4 linked regions of the Homo sapiens genome follow. The protein of the gene in region 1 interacts with the protein of each later gene in a pairwise test. Each region holds a gene or a part of one and is shown in the gene's direction. Other genes may lie near its edges.

What was found.
Region 2: the proteins of TUBGCP4 (region 1) and PRPH interact in binary tests that used the Homo sapiens proteins (3 or more experiments, as listed by UniProt).
Region 3: the proteins of TUBGCP4 (region 1) and LZTR1 interact in binary tests that used the Homo sapiens proteins (3 or more experiments, as listed by UniProt).
Region 4: the proteins of TUBGCP4 (region 1) and RNF146 interact in binary tests that used the Homo sapiens proteins (3 or more experiments, as listed by UniProt).

The regions. Positions count from the first base shown.
Region 1 is NC_000015.10:43,381,092-43,388,119, forward strand, and holds part of TUBGCP4 (gamma-tubulin complex component 4), read left to right. Parts: intron 1-2,211; coding exon 2,212-2,413; intron 2,414-4,699; coding exon 4,700-4,865; intron 4,866-5,114; coding exon 5,115-5,239; intron 5,240-7,028. UniProt on the Homo sapiens protein: Component of the gamma-tubulin ring complex (gTuRC) which mediates microtubule nucleation.
Region 2 is NC_000012.12:49,290,975-49,298,155, forward strand, and holds the start of PRPH (peripherin), read left to right. Parts: upstream 1-4,172; 5' UTR 4,173-4,226; coding exon 4,227-4,771; exon of another isoform or gene 4,772-5,203; coding exon 5,204-5,264; exon of another isoform or gene 5,265-5,457; coding exon 5,458-5,553; exon of another isoform or gene 5,554-5,610; intron 5,611-5,741; exon of another isoform or gene 5,742-5,914; coding exon 5,915-6,082; exon of another isoform or gene 6,083-6,173; coding exon 6,174-6,299; exon of another isoform or gene 6,300-6,382; coding exon 6,383-6,603; exon of another isoform or gene 6,604-6,702; coding exon 6,703-6,752; intron 6,753-6,983; coding exon 6,984-7,063; intron 7,064-7,181. UniProt on the Homo sapiens protein: Class-III neuronal intermediate filament protein.
Region 3 is NC_000022.11:20,977,919-20,985,320, forward strand, and holds the start of LZTR1 (leucine-zipper-like transcriptional regulator 1), read left to right. Parts: upstream 1-4,378; 5' UTR 4,379-4,453; coding exon 4,454-4,653; intron 4,654-5,108; coding exon 5,109-5,171; intron 5,172-7,402. Other genes in the region: AIFM3 (apoptosis-inducing factor 3), read left to right, coding at 1-87, 1,353-1,451, 1,709-1,784, 2,102-2,206, 2,829-2,849, 3,074-3,113. UniProt on the Homo sapiens protein: Substrate-specific adapter of a BCR (BTB-CUL3-RBX1) E3 ubiquitin-protein ligase complex that mediates ubiquitination of Ras (K-Ras/KRAS, N-Ras/NRAS and H-Ras/HRAS).
Region 4 is NC_000006.12:127,283,836-127,289,062, forward strand, and holds the end of RNF146 (E3 ubiquitin-protein ligase RNF146), read left to right. Parts: exon of another isoform or gene 1-1,513; intron 1,514-2,214; exon of another isoform or gene 2,215-2,342; intron 2,343-2,780; coding exon 2,781-3,858; 3' UTR 3,859-4,727; downstream 4,728-5,227. UniProt on the Homo sapiens protein: E3 ubiquitin-protein ligase that specifically binds poly-ADP-ribosylated (PARsylated) proteins and mediates their ubiquitination and subsequent degradation. May regulate many important biological processes, such as cell survival and DNA damage response.

The DNA.
Region 1 (7,028 bases):
CCACCGCACCCGGCCACTCACAACTCTTAATCTCCACTCTAACCACTGCATGAGTAAATCCTCCAGAACATTCCTTAGGGACTTAATTCTCTATTATACTTTTGTGTATAGAATATAAAATCTAATGTAGATGATACTATATATACATGTTTGTTCTGTGTTTGCAGGGACCAAACTTTACAGACCACATACTCAGAAATGCATAAATGTAAATAGCTTCACATTTGATCTTTTTAAAGAGAGATTCCATTCAGTTAAATAACACAGTCAAGTTCTTGTAATTTCTTTTTCTCCCAACCTTTTATTTTGAAAAATTTTAAACCTACAAAAAAGTTGAAAGAAACGTATAATAAAACACTTGTAGGCTGGGCTCGGTGGCTCACGCTTGTAATCCCAGCACTTTGGAAGGCTGAGGCAGAGGGATCGCTTGAGCCCAGGAGTTCGAGACCAGCCTGGGCAACATAGCGAGACCCTGTCTGTACCAAAAATAAAAAAATTAGCCAGGTGTGGTGCCTGCCTGTAGTCCCAGCTACGGGAAGCTGAGGCAGAAGGATTGCTTTAGCCCAGGAGGTTGATGCTGCAGTGAGCTGAGATCTCGCCACTGTAATCCAGCCTGGATGACAGAATGAGACCCTGTCTCAAAACAAAAAACAAAAAAAACCAACCAAACGCTAGTGTATCCTTTAGTTTCACCATTTGTTAACATTTGCCACGTTTGATTTCTCTTTTTCTCCTTCTATACGTATATGTGAAATGCACAAATTTTTTTGCAGAGTCATTTGAAAGTAGTCACAGATACCCTAACACTTAAATACTTCAGCTTGTATCACTTTAGAAAAAAGGCATTCTTGGCTGGGCATGGTGGCACACACCTGTATTCCTAGCACTTTGAGAGGCCAAGGTGGGTGGATAGCTTGAGCCTAGGAGACCAGCCCAGGCAACATAGTGAGACCCCGTCTCTACAAATACAAAAAAAGTAGGCATGCTGTGTGCGCCTGTGGGCCCAGCTACTTAGGAGGCTGAGGTGGGAGGGTGGCTTGAGTCCAGGAGGTCGAAACTGCAGTGAGCCATGATCGTGCTACAGCACTCCAGCCTGGGCAACAGAGTGAGACCCTGTCTCAAAAAAAAAAGAAAAAAGAAAAAAAGAAAAATAAAAGAAAAAGGGATTCTCTTATAGAACATCAATTCCATATTACACCCAAGAAAGTTAACATTAATTCAGTAATACTATATCCAAATTTTTCTAGTTGTCCCTCAGAATTCCTTCATAGCTGTTCTTTTTTTGCAATCCAGGATCCGATCAGTGTTCACATACTACATTTTGTTCTCATGTCTTTTTAGTCTCCTTTAATTTAGAACCGTCCCCCTTGCCTTTTGTTGTTCTTGGTGTTTTGGATGACGCTGACATTTTAAGAGTCCTGACCAGCTGTCCTGTATAATGTTTCACAATCTGGATTTATTGTTTCCCTATGATTAGATTCAGATTAAACATTTTTTGGCAAGAATACTATGTAGGTGATATTATTTCCCATTACATCATATTAGAAGGTACAGAAAGTAACTTTATCCCATCACGGATGTTATGAAGTTGGATCACTTGGCTTAGGTGTTTTCATCACGTCCTGCTCCATTATAGAGGTACATTTTCCCCTTTTTAATTAATATGCTATCTGGTGGGTGATCCTTTGAGACCATCTGAATATCCTATTCCCCAACAACCATTCTGCATTTTGTTTTAGTTTCTGAATTTTGCTAGATAATGGTTTTTCATGTATACCTGGCACTCACGTATTGAATATTCTCTCCCTAAGTGATTCCAACAAAAATAAAACAAATTTAATACTGTGTTAGCCAAAAAGAGACTCCATTAAGTCGATTTTTAAAATTTTTTATTATTTTTATTTTTTATTGCTATAAAACAGTTGTACATATTTAGGACCCATCAGTTTTGAAAATTACATAAAAGAAGGGAAGAAAATGTCTTCCCTAAAATAATATCAGCACATATACTGAACATTTTAGATTTCATTGTGTAGGCTGCAAATATGGAAATTCAGTGAGTTAGTTCACCCACATTTAAATTAAAATAGCACAATTATTTTTAACTTAATTGGTTATTTCTGTTATGACTCATCAAATTCTCAGGCCTCTGTTTATCCTGTAACAGTTTAAAGCATGACTTCTGAGCCTCTTACTTTCTACTCTGCCCAGAATCCTGGCCGTTTGTCATGGGGTCATGTATAAACAGCTCTCAGCCTGGATGCTCCATGGACTCCTCTTGGACCAGCATGAAGAATTCTTTATCAAACAGGGGCCATCTTCTGGTAATGTCAGTGCCCAGCCAGAAGAGGACGAGGAGGATCTGGGCATTGGGGGACTGACAGGAAAACAACTGAGAGAACTGCAGGACTTGGTGAGAGCCCAAAAAGTAGCCTAGCACTCTCCTGCCAGGAGTCAGAAAAGCATGCACACAAATGATCTTCTGGTGATCCCTTCTTAGCTCATAGCTGAGCACCTTCCATCAATCCTTTCGATGTAAACATTCGGCTTTATCTTAACTAGTGTGAGACTATAAAATAGAAAATATGTTTGTGATATTCTTTTTGTTTCCTCTTTCCCAATATATGCATTTGAGAGATTATAAGTCTTACTTATGTAGCTACTCTAATGGAGCAGCTAGCTACATTTTAGATTTTAAATACAGTTTGGAGTTTTGTTTTTTTTTTTAAAGACAGATTCTCACCCATCGCCCAGGCTGGAGTGCGATGGCGCAATCTTGGCTCACTGCAGCCACTGCCTCCCAGGTTCAAGCAATTCTCCTGCCTTAGCCTCCCAAGTACCTGGAACCAGGCATGTGCCACCATGCCTAGCTAATTTTCATATTTTTTATTTTCATATTTTTAGTAGAGACAGGGTTTTGTCATGTTGGCCAGGCTGGTCTCGAACGCCTGACCTCAGGTGATCCACCCGCCTCGGCCTGTAAGTGTTGGGATTACAGGCATGAGCCACCGTGCCTGGCCAGTTTGGTGTTTTGATTAGACTCCTCAAAGTTCTACATTGTCCATATTCATCCATTCATCCATCCATCCATTCATTCATTTATCCTGTGGCAATATTTCATTGAATGCCTGTTATGTGCTAGGCATTGTTCTAGGTGCTACAAATAAAAAGTAGTAGTGTCTGTCCCTAAGGAGCTCATAGTTTAGGGGAAGAGATATAGAAAAGTAAACAGTTACATTACAGTGTGCTAAGGGCTCTGAAAAGACTAAATATGGGTATTCTTGGAACATGGTCATGGGATAGGGTCTTGGAGTGACTAGGGAAGGCTTTTCAGTGGAAGGTATGTCTAAATTGCAAAGAGTTTGGGAGGAGCCATCAAGAGACATCCAGGCAGAAGGAATGATATGTGTAAAGGTACAGGGGCCATTAAGGACATGGTTCATTTGGGGAAACAGTAGTAATTCAATTGAAATGATCAAATAAAGGCTGAAGTAAAATGTTACAAGAGATGGTGTGAGGGAGAGGTGGTACTTGAAACTGTGTAAGTTGGTACTTGATGAAACTTGAGTTAAGCAGAGGCAAGATCACAAAGGTGCATGTAAACAGTGGAAATGAGTTTGTACTTGAACCTGAAAAGAGTTGGGGGCTATTGAATTTTAAGCAAGTGGGTACCACAGTCAGACTTCATGATAAATCACTCTGGATGCTGTGTGGGGAATCATTTTTTAAAAATCAAGATTAGAGGCAGGTCGATCAGTTAAGAGAGTGTTGGGGAGACTTAGGTGAAAATAATAGTCCCCTAAACCAAAGATACTAACATTGAATATGAAAAAAGAGCAAAGAGGTGTGAGAGATGTTTAGAGGGTGGAATCAGTAGGCTTAGTGAGTGCTTGGAAATGAGTCAAGAGGGAAGAATCATTGATGATACCCAGGTTTCTGCCTTCAGCAGCTGGGCAAGTAGTGACGATAGGGGTGTATACTGCTGGTATGCGGGGAAGAAGATGGGTCTAATGGGGGGCATGTTGAGTTTGAGGAACTTGTGGGAAATGTTCAGTGGGCTGAGCCTGGGGCTCATGAGAGCACTCCAGCTTACTTTAAATCTACATATGGAATCATCAGCATGGGGCTTGGAGGTTTTTAATCTGGGGCCCTTGGGTGGCTTCAGGAGGTTCATGAAATGTTATATGTCTGTACATTTGTCTGGAAGATCCATAGCTTTTATGATTGCAGAGAGGTCTGTGACCTAAAAATTAAAACTATCTGTTACACTGATCAGTCACAGAAGACGATGTGATTGTATAGGAAGTGTAGGCTGAGAGGAAAAGACAGTCTGGGACAGTGCCCTGAGGAGCACCAGCAGAGAAGACATAGAGAGAAGACCTGGAAAACAAAAAAGACCACCTCTTTCATCGTACAAGTAAGGAAGCTGGTCGACTGTGCAAGTTTTTACTCAGTAGTAAAGGCAGAGTGAGGGCCCAAATCCCAGTATTTAAGCCACTCTTATTTCCACCATGCCACTCTGCTGCCTGAAGATGAAATACATCTCTCCAAAATGGGTGGTTTGAGAACTGTGCAACACCAGATTTGAAGTCCCTGCGTCTTTATTTTAAATCATGGGTTGGGAGAGTTACTAGGTATTTTCTTGTTTTCCTTTTCTTGCTTCACACTGCATCTCGATGTGTACTCTTTCCTTGACTAGCGCCTGATTGAGGAAGAGAACATGCTGGCACCATCTCTGAAGCAGTTTTCCCTACGAGTGGAGATTTTGCCATCCTACATTCCAGTGAGGGTTGCTGAAAAAATCCTATTTGTTGGAGAATCTGTCCAGATGTTTGAGAATCAAAATGTGAACCTGACTAGAAAAGGTAGAAATCTCCTTGTCCAATGTACCACACCCTCAAAATCTCTTCTTCCTTAATACTATGTGGCCCCACAGCATGCCTGGTCAGAGCGAGTGGTCGATAATATTCCTATCCTGAGATTGTAGCAGAATCATGACGTTTGTCTGAGAAGCAGGTGAAGTTGCTGCCCCACTGAGATTAGCCCTCCCCAGAAAACCCTAACTGTCCTGGGTATTCTCCGTCCTCCTTTGACGGTGTCTTCCTATTTTGCAGGATCCATTTTGAAAAACCAGGAAGACACTTTTGCTGCAGAGCTGCACCGTCTCAAGCAGCAGCCACTCTTCAGCTTGGTGGACTTTGAACAGGTGGTGGATCGCATTCGCAGCACTGTGGCTGAGGTTTGTGTTTCATCGTATATATATATATATATATATATATATATATATTTTTTTTTTTTTTTTTTTTTTTCTTAGGCAAAATTGGACTAGTTTCCTAGAAATTGAGTTACTTGGTCGGGCGCAGTGGCTCACGCATGCAGTCTCAACACTTTGGGAGGCCAAGGCAAGTGGATCATCTGAGGTCAGGAGTTCAAGACCAGCCCGGCCAACATGGTGAAACCCCGTCTCTACTGAAAATACAAAAATTAGTCGGGTGTGGTGGCATGCACCTGTAGTCCCAGCTACTTACGAGGCTGAGGCAGGAGAATCGCTTGAACCCGGGAGGCGGAGGTTGCAGTCAGCCGAGATCACACCATTGCACTCCAACCTGGGCAACAGAGCAAGACTCTGTCTCCAAAAAAAAAAAAAAAAAAAAAAAAGACACTGAGTTACTTGACTTTTGTTTTTATCTTGATGTCTTGATGAGTTAAGAACCGAGCTTGGAAAGAAATGTTGCAGAGAGTTGAAGGCAGAAAGTAGAAAAGAAAAGCCTCTGTTTTCATTAACAGAGGCAGAACTGCCTTCCCATTTTCCTATCTAACTAAAAGACAGGTGGTTTTTAGTTGGTTAGTTAGTTGAATAAAGGGGGGATCTTGGTTTAAATTCTGAAAATCAGCATTTTGGATCTGTCTCTATCGTTTGCAATAACTCCTAGGAATCAACTAATTCTGACTAAATTTTGTGTCTTGTAGTTTAGTATGGCTCATAACTTATACTTTCATTTCTATACACAATCATCTTATGAGGAAAGCAGAACAAATATTATTTTCTCATTCTTATAAATGAAGCAAACACTCAGCAAGCTGACTTGTCTGGCTTGCCTGGTGTGGCACAGTGAGTAGCCATAGTGAGGTCAGTGCCAGGCCTCCGACTCCTGGTGCACAGTCTTCTTCATTTTGAATTGTGCTGGTGCCACCGACTTAAATTGTGACCAGTAATTTTTCAAAGGAGCATATATGTTCTGTGGCTTATATTAACATTTGTCTCATGGATATGTGATAACACGAAATGAGACATTTAGTCAGCTGTGTTGTTAACTATATTCCTGGCTTTCAACATTGGCTAAGCATAGAATCGCATGAGAAAATTTTATTTTTTATTTTTTATCTTTTTATGGAGTCTTGCTGTGTCACCCAGGTTGGAGTGCAATGGTGTGATCTCGGCTCACTGCAACCTCTGCCTCCTGGGTTCAAGCGATTCTCCCGCCTCAGCCTCCCAAGTAGCTGGGATTACAGGCACACATCACCATGCCCAGCTAATTTTTGTATTTTTAGTAGAGATGGGGTTTCACCATGTTGGCCAGGCTGGTCTCAAACTCGTGAGCTCAAGTGATCCTCCCACCTCAGCCTCCCAAAGTCCTGGGATTATAGATGTGAGCCACTGCGCCTGGCCCGCATGAGGAAATTTTAAAACCTGCACTTGCACCAAGTCCTTACTTCCAGAGCTTCTGATTCATAGGTCAGGAGAGGGTAGGTACCTTTATTTTATTTTATTTTTGAGACAGGGTCTTGCTTTGTCACCCAGGCTGAAGTGCAGTGGAGCAGTCGCGGCTCACTACAAACTCCGCCTCCCGGGTTGAAGCAATTCACGTGCCTCAGCCTCCTGAGTAGCTGGGACTGCAGGCCTGCACCAGCATGCCTGGCAAACTTTTTTGTATTTTAATAGAGATGGGGGTTTCACCATGTTGGCCAGGCTGGTCTTGAACGTTTGGGCTCAAGTGATCCTCCTGCCTTGGCCTCCCAAAGTGCTA
Region 2 (7,181 bases), on another chromosome or scaffold:
GGATTACCGGCGTATGCTACCACGCCCGGCTAATTTGTTTGTTTGTTTTTTGAGATGGAGTCTCGCTCTGTCACCCAGGCTGGAGTGCAGTGGCGCGATCTCCGCTCACTGCAAGCTCCACCTCCTGGGTTCACACCATTCTCCTGCCTCAGCCTCTCCAGTAGCTGGGACTACAGGTGCCCGCCACCACGCCCGGCTAATTTTTTGTATTTTTAGTAGAGACAGGGTTTCACCATGTTAGCCAGGATGGTCTTGATCTCCTGACCTTGTGATCCGCCCGCCTCAGCCTCCCAAAGTGCTGGGATTACAGGCGTAAACCACTGTGCTCCACTGGCATGTCTTTGTTCTATGACTGTTCTTTGGCCAGCCATGGATCTCTTTACTCTCCCAATCTCCCACTCTCTCTTGCCTACATGCCCTCCTAATCCAGCTTTGAGCCCGTGGCCTGACATTTAATAGCACTCTTGGCCAGGCGTGGTGGCTCACGCCTGTAATCCCAGCTCTTTGGGAGGCCGAGGCAGGCGGACCATTTGAGATCAGGAGTTCGAGACCAGCTTGACCTACATAATGAAACCCCGTCTCTACTAAAGTACAAAAATTAGCCAGGCATGGTGGCAGGTACCTGTAATCCCAGCTACTCGGGAGGCTGAGGCAGGAGAATCGCTTGATCCCAGGAGGTGGAGGTTGCAGTGAGCTGAGATCATGCCACTGCACTCCAGCCTGGGCAACAGAGCAAGACTCTCTCTCAAAAAAAATTTAATTTAATTTAATTTAAAAATAGCACTCTTGCCAGTAACCTAAACTTCGTTACTCACCTTCCCTGCAAACCCCTGAACACATGCAATAGTTGTTTCTCTTCCAGCCTTCATCAGAGCAGCCAAGGGAGGCAGGAGGAGGAGGAGCGATGAGAATACTGGCAAATACTTCTACAGCATGTACTAGGTGCCAAGCACAAGTGCTTTACAGAGGGTAACTCGTTTAATCCTCCCAACACCATGAGGTAAGTACTGTTATTATCATTCCCATTTGTGGATAAAGAAAATGGGGTGGCCAGGCGCGGTGGCTTATGCCTGTAATCCCAGCACTTTGGGAGGCCGAGACAGGTGGATCACGGTCAGGAGATCGAGACCATCCTAGCTAACATGGTGAAGCACCGTCTCTACCAAAAATATGAAAAAATTAGCCGGGCGTGGTAGCAGGCGCCAGTCATCCCAGCTACTCAGGAGGCTGAGGCAGGAGAATGGCGTGAACCCGGGAGGCGGAGCTTGCAGTGAGCTGAGATCGTGCCACTGCACTCCAGCCTGGGCGACAGAGCGAGACTATGTCTCAAAAAAAAAAAAAGGAAGAAAAAAGAAAGAAAGAGAGAAAGAAAGAAAGAAAGAAAATGGGGTGAACAGAGGTTAAGTCACTCAGAAAACCCAAAGCACACAGCTAATTAAGGTGAGCAGCCATGAATGAACCTGCACCATCTGCCCAGAGTCCCGGTCCACCAGGGGAGGATGAGGCCAGGGAGGACTTGGCTTCTTCCGCCTTGGGTCCAAGCACTACTTTCAGCAACCAGGGGCACAGTCCAAAAGAAGCCCAGACTCTCACTGCTCTTGGGGCTGACATTATCACTCTGGAGGTTAATAATAATAGCAATAATAAAACCAGCTTCCATTTTCAGGCTTTAAGATGTGTGTCCTAAGCACTTCACATGTATTTATTTATTCCTTTAGTCCTCCCAACAACACTATGAGGTAGAAGCTACAGTTAGTTATCTCCCTTTTCTTGAGGGACATGAAGGGACGTAGTGACGAGCCTAAATTCTACAACAGAGTGGTGGATCAGATGGGAAGTGTGGCAGCTGGATGCCAGAGCCCGGCTCTTAACCCAGACTCTTTGCCTACCTTTGCTCCGCCTGGAGTTGCTGGCCTGCTCCTTCTGCTTTAGGGGAGGAGCCTCTTCTGCCTGGCAGTTCCCCACCCAGGCCTGATCCACAGCTCCAGAGCCCTGCTGTGGCAGCCCTCTGTCCCTTCTCCTCCGAGGCATGTAGGTGGCCAGCGGAGCCCTTAAGCAGGGTGAGGACGGGAACTCCATCTGGAACTCCCCAGGCCCAGCTGCAGCCCCAGCAGCCTCTACTCTCAGAGGCTTGGGTCCCCCACTAGTGCCCTGTAGACAGGGCCTGAGCTGGTCCTCCCCAGGCCTTGCCCGCCTCTCCTGATGCAGAGCTGGCTCCCTGCTCCTGGAGGGTGGGGCCAAATCCGGGATAGATGGGGCTCCAGGCCAACAGCAGCTGGGGCTCAGTGCCCAGGACTGCGGCAGGAAGCACCAAGGCTTCCCTAGCCCCTCCTCACACCCACCAAGCCTCCCGGCCCTATCCCGGGTGGGACCCTACCCCTCCCAATTCCCAGGAGTTAGGGGAGGCCAAGCTGTCATTTATTCGTCCTGTCCCATCTCTCCCTTCCTCCCGCTTCCCACTCCCCTGGCAACCAAACCAGACCCATCAAGGAGAAGGAACTGGCAGCTGTGCAGGGAGAGACTAATGGCCCGGAAGGAAGGAGGGGCCTGGAAAGGAGACGAAGGCGGTAGGGACGTGAGCAGGGCGTTGGCCCTGGCCCATCTCACAGGACGCACAAAGGGGGGAGGGGGCTGCTGCCCTGCAATACTGAGGAGCTGGCCAGCCAGGGAGCCGCCCTCCTTACCCCCAGCCAGATATCCAGGCAGGAACCTGAAACCTGCTTCCCCAGATGCACTCTCTTGTCCTCAGGTCCCATCTGAGGCAGACCTGTCTCACAGGACAGCGCTGGAGTCCCCAGCAGCAGCAGCAGCCCCAGCCCTATGGTTCCTGGCAAACCCAGCAGACCTCAGCAACCCGGCTCCTGCAGACCATCCGAGCTGCCTCTGTCCACTCCTGGGCAGGTTGTGCTTGCATTCTGGAAGCTGTTTGACATACAAAGGCCAGATATCAGCCTTCTCGCTAACTCTGGAGTAGGGGAGGGTGTGGTGGGATGTGTGATTGTGTGTGTATGTGTGTGTATGTAGTGTGTGTGCGCATAGATATACAAAGCTGTGTGTATGCATCTGTTTGCGTGCGCAGGTTTGTGGACCTGTTCTGGGGCCTTCTCTCTTTCAGACTGCTGGGGATGGGCACTTTCTCTTTCCCCATCTCTTCCCCATCCAGCCCCACCCATCCCTGGTACCTGCAACTCATCAATACTGGAAACCAGCTCCTGCCAGTCCATCCATCTCTCAGCCTTGGCAGCCGCTGTTGCCCCTCAGCCCCCTCCCCTTCCTACCTCAGGAATCACTCTGGTTCCTGTAAAGCCCATGACTGAGCAGCAATTGGTGTGGGGTTGGGGGGAGGGAGAATCCAGTAAACCAAGACAGAATACAAAAGGCCCACTTAGCCCAGCCCGTGGCATGGGGCAGACCCTCCCGAGTGGGATCCAGAGCTGGGTCCAGCCACCCTCAGCCCCCTATGATGTACCCACCTCATTGGGGCTTGTTGCGGGGTAGGTCTAGGTTTGGGGGCTGTGTCTTTAAGGCTGAAACATCAGCAGACAACCTCTGCTGGGCCGTCTTCAGGGGAGGGGGAGGGGGGCTGGTCAGCCCATTAGCAGCAGAGCTGGCGCCAGGCACCAGCCCTTCACAGGGCCCTGGGGATTAGGGAGAGTAGCTCTTCCCCAGCCCGATCTGCCTCTGCGCCCCTGTCTCCTATTCCTCTCTGGGTGTGGTGAAGGAGGGGTAGCTGACAGCAGGTGAAAATAGAGCCTGGCCTTCAGGGGGCAAGTCAAGGCACTAGCTATGGGGCCTAAGCCAGGTCAACTCTCCCTCCAGCTGGCCTCCTCCCTACTCCTGTGCCAGAAGCCTGCCCTTTAACTTCAGGTCCTTCTACCTCGCAATTTTCAGGGACTCTAGTTCAAGTCAGGCCTTCCTACCCTAGGTTCTAGCTTTGGGTGCTTGTTGGGAGGAAGTGACCCCCACCCCAGCGGCAACAGGGGGCAATCAAGTGGGTAGAGGCCTGCAACCAGGGAAGGGAGGGGAAGGCGCTCCTGCTGTTCCGCAGGGGTGGGGCATCCCCCTCCCCATACAACCCCCCTCCAGCGGGCCATCAGGCCAGTGGGAGGAGCTGCCCGTGCCCCCCCTGAGACCGCAGGGCTATAAAGCCGCCTCGCAGCGGTCTGCGGCTCCTTCCCAGCCCCCGGCCTAGCTCTGCGAACGGTGACTGCCCATCCTTGGCCGCAATGAGCCACCACCCGTCGGGCCTCCGGGCCGGCTTCAGCTCCACCTCATACCGCCGTACCTTCGGTCCACCGCCCTCACTATCCCCCGGGGCCTTCTCCTACTCGTCCAGCTCCCGCTTCTCCAGCAGCCGCCTGCTGGGCTCCGCGTCCCCGAGCTCCTCGGTGCGCCTGGGCAGCTTCCGTAGCCCCCGAGCGGGAGCGGGCGCCCTCCTGCGCCTGCCCTCGGAGCGCCTCGACTTCTCCATGGCCGAGGCCCTCAACCAGGAGTTCCTGGCCACGCGCAGCAACGAGAAGCAGGAGCTGCAGGAGCTCAACGACCGCTTCGCCAACTTCATCGAGAAGGTACGCTTTCTGGAGCAGCAGAACGCGGCCCTGCGCGGGGAGCTGAGCCAAGCCCGGGGCCAGGAGCCGGCGCGCGCCGACCAGCTGTGCCAGCAGGAGCTGCGCGAGCTGCGGCGAGAGCTGGAGCTGTTGGGCCGCGAGCGTGACCGGGTGCAGGTGGAGCGCGACGGGCTGGCGGAGGACCTGGCGGCGCTCAAGCAGAGGTCAGGGGGCAGGGCTGGGCCGCTGCCGTCGAGGCGAGGTCGAAGCGGCCGTCGAGGCGGCTGCTCTTGCCTCCCCTCGCTTCCCCTCTCCATCAGCAGCCCAAGGGTGTGGCTCCCCTTACCAACCCAGGTGTGTGCGGGCAGCATCCCTGCCCACGGGCTCCAAGTGCCCCCCGCTACCCCTTTGCTCTGAGTGTTTGGGGAGGTGGGAGAAGTGGGTATCTGTGCCTCCCCTGAGTAATGAGGAAACCCCCTTTTCAGCTCCCAGTCCGTTAGAGACAATGCGGGGCAATTCCATTAGACAGCCTCAGCCCTCCATTTAGAGTCCTGGGCAGCAGAACAGCCTCTAACCGGATCCTGGGGGGCGTGCGGTCTGGGGTGCGAGCTGGGCGGCGACCCCGCAGTTCAGCCTCTGCACGCTCTTCCCGTCAGGTTGGAGGAGGAGACGCGCAAGCGGGAGGACGCGGAGCACAACCTCGTGCTCTTCCGCAAGGTGAGTCCGAGCCCCTCTCCGAGTTCAGCCTCCCCACCGCTACCCCCGATCTCAGTATCCAGAGGTGGCATCGGTGGGCGCGGGGAGAAGGGGGTAACCCAGATGCCTCCTGAGGCAGACAGGGAAGGCCTGGTCCTTCCTTGGTCTGCGCAGCCCCTAACTTATCTTGAACCTCCACTGCCACCCCTCGAAGGACGTGGACGATGCCACTCTGTCCCGCCTGGAACTAGAGCGCAAGATTGAGTCTCTGATGGATGAGATTGAGTTCCTCAAGAAGCTGCACGAGGAGGTAAGTGGGCCCGGTATCAGGGGCGGTTTCTGAGGTTGTGGGGTGGTCTCGCTGGAGCTGGCGGGTGGAGCGGAGGCATCGCCCTGGGGATCAGGACGATGCTGGGTAGACGCAGCCCCTCCACCCTAGTCTACAGGTGGTTAGACTCCCACCCTTGCGCCACCTGGCGGCGGGCAGCGGGGCTGTACCTCCGAAACCTGGCCTCTGGTCTCGCGCCCGCGGGGGCGCAGGGCTGTACGCCCTGCCCTCCCTGGCGCCCACTTCTGTTCGTTCAAGCGTTTCTTCTCTTTTCTGTGCACGAACTGCGTGGCCCGCGTGGAATTTGCGCCGCTGTCCATCCTCTGCCTGCTCCCGGCCGTAGGAGCTGCGAGACCTGCAGGTGAGTGTGGAGAGCCAGCAGGTGCAGCAGGTGGAGGTGGAAGCCACGGTGAAGCCCGAGCTGACGGCAGCGCTGAGGGACATCCGCGCGCAGTACGAGAGCATCGCCGCGAAGAACCTGCAGGAGGCGGAGGAGTGGTACAAGTCCAAGGTGCAAGAGCCGGGAGGGCCTGCGAGGCGGGACGCTGGGGTGGTGTCGCGCGTCCCAGCCGACTAAAGCCTGGGTTACCCCCACTTCTCAGTACGCGGACCTGTCCGACGCTGCCAACCGGAACCACGAGGCCCTGCGCCAGGCCAAGCAGGAGATGAACGAGTCCCGACGCCAGATCCAGAGTCTAACGTGCGAGGTGGACGGGCTGCGCGGCACGGTGAGTACGAAGCTGCGCGCTCGGGCCCGGGGAGCGGACGATGAAATGTTCTGCAACTGGCCCCTTCCACTCTCCTACCCCAGAACGAGGCGCTGCTCAGGCAGTTGAGAGAGCTGGAGGAGCAGTTCGCCCTGGAGGCGGGGGGCTACCAGGCGGGCGCTGCGCGGCTCGAGGAGGAGCTGCGACAGCTAAAAGAGGAGATGGCGCGGCACCTGAGGGAGTACCAGGAGCTCCTCAACGTCAAGATGGCCCTGGACATCGAGATCGCCACCTACCGCAAGCTGCTGGAGGGCGAGGAGAGCCGGTGAGGGTGGAGCTGCTGGGGCGGGGCAGGGCGGGGTCGGGACTGGGCCGGGCAGGGCGGGGCCTGGGCAGGGGCGCTGACAACTTGCTTCGCCTCTAGGATCTCCGTGCCCGTCCATTCTTTTGCCTCCTTAAATATAAAGACGACTGGTGAGTCTGGCTTACAGCCTGTACCTCTCCTTGTCCACTTCTGCCCTCCTCGGGCTCTTGCTCTGGCTCACCTCAGGGATCTCTTCTCCCCACGGAACTTCTGGGTCCTGGCCTGTACCCACCCCTACTCCTCAAACCCGCCCCTCCCCTGCCCTCAGGGATAGCAGTGGGAGCCTAAGAGGAGAGATTCCCACGCCTTCCCCCTTGAACCCTTTATCCTGCTTTCTTCAGTGCCTGAGGTGGAGCCTCCCCAGGACAGCCACAGCCGGAAGACGGTTCTGATCAAGACCATTGAGACCCGGAATGGGGAGGTGAGGCAGGTCCCCTAATGCCAGGACCCCACCATTTCCCATATTATTTCTGAGCCCCAGCCTGGCTGTCGCTAATCTTACTTAGGGTGGGTAATTCTTGGGGAGAGACAGAGAAGGA
Region 3 (7,402 bases), on another chromosome or scaffold:
CAGCTGGCGATGCTGTCACCTTCCCCCTTGCCTGGAGGAACAACCGCAAAGTGAACATTCCACATTGGCAGATGGCTCATGCTCAGGGTATGGCCAGTCCCGAGGCACATGGAGGGGTGGGAGGGAGTCTCAGGGTCTCAGTGTCCCCATGCCCATGCCTCAGTTGCTGACCTTGGGTCCTGGACACTGTTAGGCATCAAAGCTCTGATGTGGATTCTCTGGCCAGCCTCATCTCGGCGATCCAGCCAACACAGAGAGCGACACCCCACTGAGCCAGCCATAGCTCCTCAATCTCAGTTTTCCTTCTGGTAGTCTCTCCCTTTTTTGTCTTCAAGGACATATATTCTGCAGAATTCCTGATCAACCTGTGCATTACCCTGGGGAGGGAGGGAGGGATTTAGTGGATCACCTTCCCATTTATGCCTCTGTTTCCCTTGGGCCACTCAAGTATCTCTGTGAACTCAGTTCAGCCTCATGCAGGTCCCCGAGGTGCCATCTGAGCCCAGAGACGTGGGCTCAGTGGAGGCACTGTGCTTTCTGAGGAATAGCTTTCCCCTCCTGATGTTTGCTGGCCACCAAGTCCCCCAAGCCTCATCCACTGTGCACATCTGGTCTGGGCCCCTAAGCTGCAGGTGCCATCACATTAGTTGCCTCACTGCCTCAGAGAGAGGACTGCCAGACTCCCAGCCTGGGACAAAGGACTTCTCTGCACCCATCTCCCCTTTCCTCTGCCTTTACACCTGAGGGTCTGCTGCTTGAAACCCCACTTCTGGTACCAATTTCTATTCAAGTCCAAAGTCGAAAGTTGTTGCTAGGTTGTAAGTAACCAAGGCAACTTATCAGCCAAGTATAATTAGGATTTAACTGAGAGAGTTTAGGGGACTTTGAAGTACATCCAACTACAGGGGTCTACTGGGGCCTCATAGGAACTGGGGAGCCATCCACACTGGTCTCTTTGGGGCCTTGTGTGTGGCTGTCATCTGTGCTTCCCTGTGTACTTGTGCCCCATTTTCCTCCCTCTTCAGACCTGATACGTCTGATTAGGTGTCTGTGTGCACAGCTGAAATGGTGGCGTACTCCCCCAACCCCAAGAAGCAGACCTTCCAGAGTCAGGGCACTTTATTCAGATTCTTTAAGGAAGCAATCAAGTGGCTAGCTTTGAGGCAGGTGTTCCCCTGCACCAGTCAGCTGCAGGTGCAAGTGAGCAGTGGGCTGAACAATGATGTCTCTTGACCTCTGGGGAGACCAGGAGGAGTAGCCACACGTGTCAGGGGTCCCCAGGGCATCAGGAGCAGGTAGTGTGGGAGTGGTAAGAGCGAGAGTTAGGGTTCTCACGGCCCTGGGTCCCGCAGGGCGCGTGGCAGCCCAGAACATGTTGGCGCAGGAGGCGGAGATGAGCACTGTGCCCTACCTCTGGACCGCCATGTTTGGCAAGAGCCTGCGCTACGCGGGTAACCCCGGGGCCTCGGATGGGGGCGGGGCCGAGGGCGTTTAGGGGCGGGGCTTGGGTGTGGGGCGGGGCTGGGAGCCTAGGGGCAGGGCTATGACCGCACTAGGAAGAGGCCGGTAAGAACTCGCTGGCGGCAAGGCTACGAACTACCTAAAAGGACGTATGGAGCAGGGCCTGGGCGGGGTTAGGAGGGGATCCTGTGACGTCTCGTTCCCTCCCCCGGCTCACGTGGGTGCCACCCACCTGCCCGGCCCACAGGCTACGGAGAAGGCTTCGACGACGTCATCATCCAGGGGGATCTGGAGGAGCTGAAGTTTGTGGCTTTTTACACTAAGTGAGAGCACCGGGGTGCAGCTTGGCGCGAAGCAGCGGGAGCTCAGTCGGGAAGGGGGATTCATCCCAGGCAAAATCCCAGAACAAGAGCCCAGCCCTGAGCCCCGCTGAGGAGTGCTGGAGCTTCCTTAGGAAAGCCCGAAGCTTGTGCACGGTCAAGCCGCGATGTGCAAAGCAGGGAGGGCTGGGTGCTCAGGCCATTCTTGTTGCCCTGGGGTAGGTCCTTCCCTGGGCCCCAGATGGACAGCAGTGCATCAGGGTTTTCAAAAAGGGGCTGCTGCCTCGCAGTCCTCAGGCTTGGCCATCCTCTCCTTGCAGAGGCGACGAGGTGATCGCCGTGGCCAGCATGAACTACGATCCCATTGTGTCCAAGGTCGCTGAGGTGCTGGCCTCAGGCCGTGCCATCCGGAAGCGGGAGGTGGAGTGAGTGTGGGTGTGGGAAGCCTGGGGGTGGGAGTAGTTCCCTGGAGTACTGGCTAAGGTGCCTATGACAGCCAGCCGCCCCCACAACCCTCCAGGGCCTTTCCCCTCTTGGTTTGCATCGCCTGAGGCTTACAGGACTACAGGGAGGTGTGGGGCAAGGATCATGGTTTGAGAGCAGGCTGGTTATGTGTTCATGGTGGATGGAAGGGATAGAGATGTGTGTCACCAGGCAGGGCCAGTGCTGTGGGAAGGGGTCAGGGCCCAATGCATGGGCAATCACCAGGCGTGGGACACCTAACTGGACATAGTTGTGCTGAGCCTGGCAGAAGCTAGGTGGGAAATGCAGCTACTGATGCCCTGGGTATGCCCTCCACATAGATGGTGGGGGTGGTTCTAGGTTTCACTCAACACCAGCCAGTTCCCTTATCCTGGTGTGGTGTCAATGAGATTCACCCTCTGGGAGAGAGCTCCCAGGGACTGGGGACAGCCTGGAGGCCACTGGGAGGCTATGAGACAGGGGCAGGCTTCAGGCTGGAAACAATGGAGGACCAGAAGGGGACATGATAAATGACATGCTCTCTCCTTGGCCTTCTCTCCGTTTCTCTCTCTTGCCTTCGTGAAGGCTGTTTGTGCTGCACAGCAAGTACGTGTGTCCTTCATGTTGACCGTTCTGAGCCTTTCCCATGTCAGCCCAGACCCTCCACCCAATGGTCTTATCTCCCTCTGTCCAAGTACACCTCCCTGCTGGGCACTAGGGTCTGGCACAGAACAGACCCCCTGCTGTCCTCAAGGGCCAGCTGTTCAGGGTGCCCAGAGTGGAGAGCCTGTTTTCTTCTGTCTTGACCCCTCCTCCCCTCACTCCTGCAGGACTGGCGACATGTCCTGGCTTACGGGGAAAGGATCCTGAGCTCACATGCAGTAGACTTGGGCAGGCAAAGGGGGCACCAAGGGCACAGGCCAAGCCTTGGGGGCAGGTGCCAATCTCCAGTCCCAGGATCCCCCAGGGCAGAACCTGAGCCCTCCCAGTGCTTGCCTTCAGCCACCTGGCTCCCCTCCTGGGAGGCCTCTGCTGGATCCAGAAGATGCTCAACCCTCAAGGCCTCTGCTGCCACTGACAGCTGGCACTGGAGGCAGGACAAGCCCTGCCTCTTCTCCCTCTATTGGGACTGGTCCCCTGAAGAACCCTGCAACACGTTAAACATTACCGTAAAATTAAAACGCACAAATTTGCAGATCTGTATGACTCCCAGTGTAATTGGGCCAATAGGCACAGGACCAGACCACAGGGAAACAGGCACAATCACAGAATGCCAGGTGCCACACCAAGGAAATTTGGCCTGTGAACGCCCAGAGGAGGTAGCAACTAATTCTGCGCCCCAAGCCCTCCCACATCCCTCTCCCCCTCTGCGATCAGCGAACGCTTTTTGCTTTTGGCTCTGAGTTTTGAAGGAAGGGTATTCCAGGTAGAAGGGACAACATGCCCAAAGGTCTTGAGATAGTAAATGCTCCTTCAGAGGTGGCTCATGCTTGACACTTTGGGGCATTTGCCCACTTAGGGCTGTGGGAGCTGTGTCCTGAGACAGACCCCATGCTTTTCATAGCCGGAGCATTCTCAATCCCCATGTCGGAGGTGAAGGAGCTGAGGCCCTGCTAAGTAGGAATGAGAATCCAGAGGCTCCTCGCCGGGCTGCCTCTCAGTCAGTAAGAAAGCCAAGGGGAGAGGGGAGTTGCTGGGGGTCAGGGCTGAGGGCGCTAGCAGGAAAGGGAGCGTTGAGCCGCCTGCAGAGGCCGCTGCGAGCCCGGAACCCTCCATGGGGGATCCCGGCAGCGGCAGACGATCCAGGCCGGAGCCACGCGCAGACCCAGGGCATGCCGGGAACTGCGAGCCGGCCGCGGGTCTTCGGGCTGCGTGGGCCTGGGAGGCGCCGGGAAGAGCAGTCGCGACGGGGCTAGGGACGACACACTGCATTCACTGGAAGGGACAACGCAGCGCCAGTACATAGCCTGAAACGCTCCCCAGAAGGTCCCACGCTCGCCGCGCGGTCGACAACCGCATCCTGCGCTCGCCCGCGGTGTCTCGGCAAGCGGTAGGCTTGTCGGGAAGAGCTGGAGGGCGCAAGTGCGGCGCTGGCCGGACGTGCCGCACCGTCAGCGCAGGGCTCGCCGGGAAATGTGGTTTCTCCAGCCGGCCCGGGGCGGTGGCCGCAAGTTGGGCTTACAGCGCGGCCGATCCGGCGTGGACCCGGGATGGCTGGACCGGGCAGCACGGGGGGGCAGATCGGGGCTGCGGCCCTGGCAGGCGGCGCGCGGTCCAAGGTAGCCCCGAGCGTGGACTTCGACCATAGCTGCTCGGACAGTGTCGAGTACCTGACGCTCAACTTCGGGCCCTTCGAAACAGTGCATCGCTGGCGGCGCCTCCCGCCCTGCGACGAGTTCGTGGGTGCCCGGTACGGTGGGCTTCATGGGGTCCTGAGGACAGGAAGGGCGATCTGCGAGGGTCCCAGGGCGGGTCCAGGGGCGAAGCCGGGGGGTGGTGTCCTGGGGTAGGATCTGGTAATGAGGTGGATGGTGCTGTACAGGACGCTGTTCAGGGCAGGGGAGAGGGTTCCGAGGGAGTCCCAGAGCCCGATGTCCCGGGACAGGGTACTGGAACTAAGTTGTGTTTGTGGATATTGGGCTGGGGTCCCAGGTGCTCTGAGGTGGGGTGAGGAGTCCAGAGAGTCCTGGAGCCGTGTCAGGGGTCCTCACTTGCAGGATGATTGGTGTTATCTTAGAAGATGATGGATCTTAGCAGTTGAGAGGTGATACCTAACTTCCGTGGCAGCTCTCCTGCTTAGTCCCATTCCTTGGGTGCCCCCCAGGAGGGTCCTGTCCTTACCGCCCTCCACTCCTTTCTTTCCAGGCGCAGCAAGCACACAGTGGTGGCCTATAAAGATGCCATTTATGTATTTGGTGGAGACAATGGGTGAGTGAGTCTCAGCATCAGTGTTTGGACCAGGTAGGGAGAAGTACTGTGGTCAGGGACTGGGCCTGTCCAGCTCCATTACTGTCCTTTCAGATGCTAGCTGGTGCCTCTAAGCTTCAGTTTCCCCATCTGTGAGATTCCTTGCACTCACCTCCCTGGTCGTGGTGAGGATTAAATGAGATCCTGCACTCATGGTCCTCAGCACAGCTTCCAGTGGGTGGCACATGCTCAGTATGTGGAAATGTCCCTCTTCTGAGTAGATGCAGCCTTGAAAGAAACACAACCACCCTTGCGGCCAGCCCTGCCAGGCACTTTTCTTTCCCTGTGCCTCATCGGTATGGAGGACACAGTTTTATTTATTTCATGCATTTTTCACTTTTTGTGGGGGTTTTCCCAAATTGCTCCAAACATCAGGCAACAACGTGATGTTTTGTTGGTGGGCACACCTCCTTTCACATAAACTGTCTCCACTTAAGTTGTGGCTGGTTTCCTTATGCAGAGGGTGGAGTATTTGCACATGACTAGTTGTGTCCATGTGTCCTAGCCCTGCCTCTCAGCCCCAGGAACTAGCATGAAGCCCTGGAAGGTCTGGCCTCTTACTGGCTCTGCAGCCTTGGTCCTGTAGGCCTCCTTGGGGGGCGGGCTTGAGGATGGTGGGGTAGTCTGGACCCCACCAGGATCTGCATACTGGGCAGAAGAGCCTCCTTGGGCATGGTCCCCTGGCTTCAAGCCTGTCTTCCTCCCACTCTCTTTCCCCAGGAGTAGCCGGTGGGGCCCATTTACAAAAGCAAGTCAGAGTATGCTCCTCCTTGGCTCATCCTCCTGTAATGCCTCCCTGCCTCTCTGAGTAAAAGCCCAAGTCCTCATGAGAGTCTGCTGCTCCTCTGCCCTCAGTCCCTCACTGCACTGGGGCGGCACGGGCTGCCTTGCTATGTTTGGATTGTACCAAGTGCCCCCCTGCTCAGGCCCTTGCACTGCCCATTCTCTCCTCTCACCTTCCTGCCCCTCCTCTGATGTTTCTTGTGACTGAGGCCTTACTTGGCCATCTGGACCAACTGGAGACCATTGCTTCCCCTCCATACCTCTTACCATCTTCATTTGTTCCTGAGGCACACAGATGTTGGTTATTATCCATCTCTTCAGTCAAGGCAGGGCCTGTGCTCCTTTTACCATTGTATCCTGGCATCTAGAAAACTCCATAAATGTTTGTCAAATGAAGGAATGAAATGAAGAAGAGATGCCTACCCACAAGCATTTACTGCAGCCTTAATGAGAACCCTCCAAACCAGAAAGGGCTTTAGTGTCCAGTACAAGGCAGCAAGTGGGAAATGGGGGACCTTCATCCTCAAGAGTGTCCTTAGCAGGTAGTTTGTGTGACAACTGTGTAGCAATAAGCAGAAACATTTTTGCTGCAGTATGACAAAGAAATAGGATACAAATTTGTCTCACACTAGTCTTAACTTTATAAAGACTGCCTGAGTACAAAGAAAGATGGCCTCCTGCGGCACGTGGGGCAAGTAAGGAGGGGGGGGGGGCGGTATCACAATCACCACCAGCTTCTAGGCTCCTGGCTTCCTGGCTGCATGGCCTCAGACACAGCCTTTGAGCCACTAGGCTTTGTTGCCATCTGTGAAATGGAGGTGAGAGAGCACCCACTGGTGCAGACTAAGTGAGACCGTTCAGGGGGCACCCAGCACAGGCTGGGCATGACGGGGCACTGGGCTCCTGTCAGTTTGCCCTTCTTCCCAAGGGCTGGGTAGTGATATGCCAGCTGGTAGTGTTAGGTGGTGCAATGGCCAGTGAATTTGTTTTCTATTTGATTGTATGGCTTTTGCAACAAAGAAATGGCAGGGGCCAGGTGCAGTGGCTCACACCTGTAATCCCAGCACTTTGGGAGGCTGAGGTGGGAAGATCACTTGAGGCCAGGCATTCAAGACGAGCCTGGGCAGGAAAGCAAGACTTCGTTTCTATTTTTTTTTTTTTTTTTTTGAGATGGAGTCTTGCTCTGTCACCCAGGCTGGTGTTCAGTGGCGCCATCTTGGCTCACTGCAACCTCTGCCTCCCGGGTTCAAGCGATTCTGCCGCAGCCTCCCGAGTAGCTGGGATTACAGGCGCCTGCCACCATGCCAGGCTAATTTTTTTGTATTTTTAGTAGAGATGGGGTTTCACCATGTTGGCCAGGCTGGTCTCAATCTCCTGACCTCAAGTGATCCGCCCGCCTAGGCTTCCCA
Region 4 (5,227 bases), on another chromosome or scaffold:
ATTGTTTGCAGATTAACTTTGTCCAACTTCACTTCATTCTGATGATGGAACCAAAATACCTGCACAAACAGGATTGTTTTGCCTTTCCAATTATGTTATTATAATTCATGCCTTCTCCTGGGATGATTGTAATTGCTTTCTTAGTTTTGAAATTATGTGTTTTGGTTTATTCATAAATGCAAGAGTAAGAGTCATGCAAAATATTAATCATATTAAGTAGGGTGGAGGATAATGTTTTTAGGTTGGAAACTTTTTTTTCTGTAGATAAACGAGCTGTATGTGATGGAAAACTGACTTCTTGGGCCCATTTTACTTAAAGCAAATACAATAGGTTTGGAATTATGTATTTAAAAGCATGGCATTGGTCCACGTGACATGTTGGGTGTCTTGTTTTCATTTTACCAGACTCTGTTTTTATTTATGTTTTCAGTTTATGATCCTGTCCTTTGTTCATAAGGTACTTAGATGGTTTAAGATGTAGACTTCTTATATGAAGATGTTGCTGTTGTTTTTCCAAAGTAATGGTGGTCATCAGCCCATTTTTCTATTTAGTCTCATGAATAGAATCATGAGTAGAATCTTTCTTAAATTATTACTTGTAAATGGATCACTTTCTTGTTTTCTTTTTCTTAATTGGAGCTTTAAATAAATATGGAACTTGGAACAAAAAGATTTTCAGGAATTTTATGGAAACTAACTTTTTTGACCTAAATCGAAAGGGATGAAAGTTTCTGAAAACCTAACAAAATGTGTGCACAGCCAATTCTTTTAGGGGAGGAAATAGGCAGGGAATGTGTAATTGGCTATTTTAAAAACATATGCCTTCTTTTGTAACTTATTGTTGTTTCAAGTTACAAGATCTTTGAAGGCAAGTGTTTATCTCAAAATATTTGAAAGCTTTTATAGTGCTTAACATACTAAGACGTCCTATTAGGGTTTACTTAGAACAAGCTTATCCAACTTGTGGGCCACATGTGGCCCAGGATGGCTTTGAAAGCGGCCTAACACAAATTCATAAGCTTTCTTAAAACATTATGTGATTTTTTTTTTTAGCTTATCAGCTATCATTAGTGTTAATGCATTTTATGTGTGGCCCAAGACAATTCTTTTTCTTCCAGTGTGGCCCAGGGAAACCAAAAGATTAGACACCCCTGACTTAGAACTTTCCATAGGTTAGGAGAAAGTTGTACTTTCTTGATGTCTATAACCTAGAATTTCTGGTAAAGGAATTGATTGGAAATGTTATTAAAAGTTGAAAATAATTTGGAAATTAAACATTTTAGTGATCAGTTCTTCCATTGAGACTGTGTTGGTTCCTTTACTAGATATGTGCCATCTTTTTAAAAACTTACTGTGTTGCTTCCTTTACTAGAAAATTGCCATCTTTTTGAGCCTTGTCTATTGAGGAACCAAGAACACAGAAAAGGCAGTAAAAAGAAAAAAAAGGATTGTTTGAAGATTGAATGTGCTGTGATGATAGCCTAGGATTATTGTTTTTCAATTTTTGATGAGCGTAAGCATTCTTGTTGACTATATCTTTTGTAACTACTGACCCATTTAGAATGGCAGAATTAGCTGGCAGAGAGATTGTCATTCATTTTAAGCTTTCAATCTCTGACATCTTCATCTTTATTTCTCAGTCTTTTTTACTTATCAGTGGTTTACTCCATTATTTTCTCCCCTTTTAAAATGTCTTTTTTTTTTTTTTTTTACCATGGGGAAAAAAATTAGATGTTTCCTTGGCAGGGCACAATAACACAATAAGGCTTTCATGACTTAACTTTTGATTACCTTTACACCTTCATCTCCTGCTCTTCCATTGCTTGTATGACTATTTGACTCAGTGTCTTGCATGTGCTTCTGCCTGGAATCTGCTCCACTGCCCAGCCCCTCTGAATGAACACTAAACTTTCTAACCTATGTCCATCCTCTCATCTCTCTCTTACTGTTATTTTAGTAAGTATGTTAACACATTTTGATTACGCAGGAATCAGGCCATATTGTAATTATCTGCATGTATGTTTCCTTATTTAACAGAGTAGTTGTGTGTCTTATTTATCTTTAGACCCATCAGTACTTAGTATTGTATCTGGAACATGGCAGGTGTTTAGTAAATGTTTATCTGAATCAATAAGGCAGAAATTATAAATTTTATGTCAGTGTTTAAGCTAGATACATCCAATTTGACAAATCTTTTTTCTTCTTCCTCTTCAGGGGATCTTCAATATTCATGTTATTTTCTCCTTTGGTCTTATATGATTGTTACCTTTATGAAGCTTTAGTGATTACAAAGCACTTTTTTTGTCCATTTTTACCTGAGCTTTGTAAACTCTGATTTGCAGGTAAGGAAATTTAGACTAATGGTTTAACTGAGTGCCTAAGAGCACATAATTAATAAAGGACTCTAAAACTCAGATTTTTAGATTTCTTGTCTAGCATTCATTTCACTGTATAATAGCTGCCATGATTCAAGGTATCCTTTTCCCCTCACTGGATGCAGCTTTTCATTATATAGTTCTTCAGTGTGTTTCTCCAGGGCTGATCTGTTAAGTGCACTGATGGAATTTTTATACATTCCCAAGGTATGTACAAGTAGATGCTTACAAAAAATTTTCATCGGTTGGAGAGTTTTTCCTCTACTTTCATCTTCATATCCCCATTGTCTAGTATGTGGCTTGCATATAATGCACATCATAGGTGGTTAGTGTTTTCATAATTGTTAAATTAAGATATTGCAAGAATTAAAACATGACTTTAATATTATATGTATTTTTTCTTAGGATGGCTGGCTGTGGTGAAATTGATCATTCAATAAACATGCTTCCTACAAACAGGAAAGCGAACGAGTCCTGTTCTAATACTGCACCTTCTTTAACCGTCCCTGAATGTGCCATTTGTCTGCAAACATGTGTTCATCCAGTCAGTCTGCCCTGTAAGCACGTTTTCTGCTATCTATGTGTAAAAGGAGCTTCATGGCTTGGAAAGCGGTGTGCTCTTTGTCGACAAGAAATTCCCGAGGATTTCCTTGACAAGCCAACCTTGTTGTCACCAGAAGAACTCAAGGCAGCAAGTAGAGGAAATGGTGAATATGCATGGTATTATGAAGGAAGAAATGGGTGGTGGCAGTACGATGAGCGCACTAGTAGAGAGCTGGAAGATGCTTTTTCCAAAGGTAAAAAGAACACTGAAATGTTAATTGCTGGCTTTCTGTATGTCGCTGATCTTGAAAACATGGTTCAATATAGGAGAAATGAACATGGACGTCGCAGGAAGATTAAGCGAGATATAATAGATATACCAAAGAAGGGAGTAGCTGGACTTAGGCTAGACTGTGATGCTAATACCGTAAACCTAGCAAGAGAGAGCTCTGCTGACGGAGCGGACAGTGTATCAGCACAGAGTGGAGCTTCTGTTCAGCCCCTAGTGTCTTCTGTAAGGCCCCTAACATCAGTAGATGGTCAGTTAACAAGCCCTGCAACACCATCCCCTGATGCAAGCACTTCTCTGGAAGACTCTTTTGCTCATTTACAACTCAGTGGAGACAACACAGCTGAAAGGAGTCATAGGGGAGAAGGAGAAGAAGATCATGAATCACCATCTTCAGGCAGGGTACCAGCACCAGACACCTCCATTGAAGAAACTGAATCAGATGCCAGTAGTGATAGTGAGGATGTATCTGCAGTTGTTGCACAGCACTCCTTGACCCAACAGAGACTTTTGGTTTCTAATGCAAACCAGACAGTACCCGATCGATCAGATCGATCGGGAACTGATCGATCAGTAGCAGGGGGTGGAACAGTGAGTGTCAGTGTCAGATCTAGAAGGCCTGATGGACAGTGCACAGTAACTGAAGTTTAAATAAAAATGTCTTCAGCTCCATGCTCAAGGTTGAAAGGGTTACCTGTAAATTTCTGCCCACATAACATTATACTCATCCCTAGTAGTGCATTTTGGGAGTTGGGGTGGGAAGGGGTATGGGAAGGATAGACTCATAATTAAAATGTCTAACATGTCTCTGTTGAGAAATTTATTTAATGTAAGGAACTTGGGTGTTAATAGTTGAGAGCTGTTTAGTAATAACCCAGTTTTCTTGAGGTCTGTTTACTTTATACTTTTTAAAAACTTCTGTAGTTCTTTTGGCCAGTGTGTTTGTATTATCTGTGCATTAATGGTCCTCATCTGACTCCTGCATTGTGTCTTATTTTTCTGCATGGATTGGCATAAGACCATTACTAAAATTTGGCACCTGTGAGATGTTTGATATTATGAACAGGAAACATAATTTAATGTATGAATAGATGTGAATTTGGGATTTCAAAATAGATGAATAACAACTATTTTATAGTAAAGTTATTGAAATGGAAATGAAAACAGCCAGTAACTTATGTTTCAGAATGTTTGTAACACACTTCATGGTGTTCCCATAGGCTTTGCTGTCTAGTCTTATAGTTTGAGGTTTTTTTGGTCTGCATTTTTCTTTTTGATTACAAAATTTATAATTTAATAAATACTAGAGTTTATCAAAAACAGTTTGTCTCTTGTTTGAGGGTGGAAAGGGTGTGGAAACATTTTGACATTTGTGACCAAAGGTCACTTAAAAAGTGGTGGTTTTAATTGGTTGTTTTCAGCTTAATCACCTGCTCAGAAAAGTTTGATTTTTTTCTTAGAGATTATTTAAACAGAATCTATAGGCAGTGTGTATATAATAAACATGTATGGAAATAAAACTAAAGCCTGTGAGACTTAAAATTCCTCAAATAGCATATACCGTTAATATTTTATATTTTCCTTACCATATTCATTAGTAGTCTAACACTCTGGATTAAATGGCAGACTTAACGGTGTTAGCAGACATGAATTCACTTTACACAAAATGTTGTAGACCACAAAATCCACTTTTATTTGGTAGTTTTTACATCTATGGCCAAATAGTATTGGGTTGACACAGTAATCTAGAGTTTACCTCTGAAAAAAAGTAATGTGAGTCTGTCTAACCATATTTTCCTAACTCAACAGTAGGATCATGATGGTAAGGCAAATGCAAGTTATTTTTACCATGATTCTCAAATGTGAATTGAATGTTACAGTAGCAAATACTTTTGACCTCTTGTGATGAGTCAGAACTAGAACTTAATTCTTTGACTTTCACATTTTTTAAAAAGTGTATTGCTGGGATCATAAACATTTTATGTTGTGCATTTTTATTACATTTACTTTTGAAAGATAG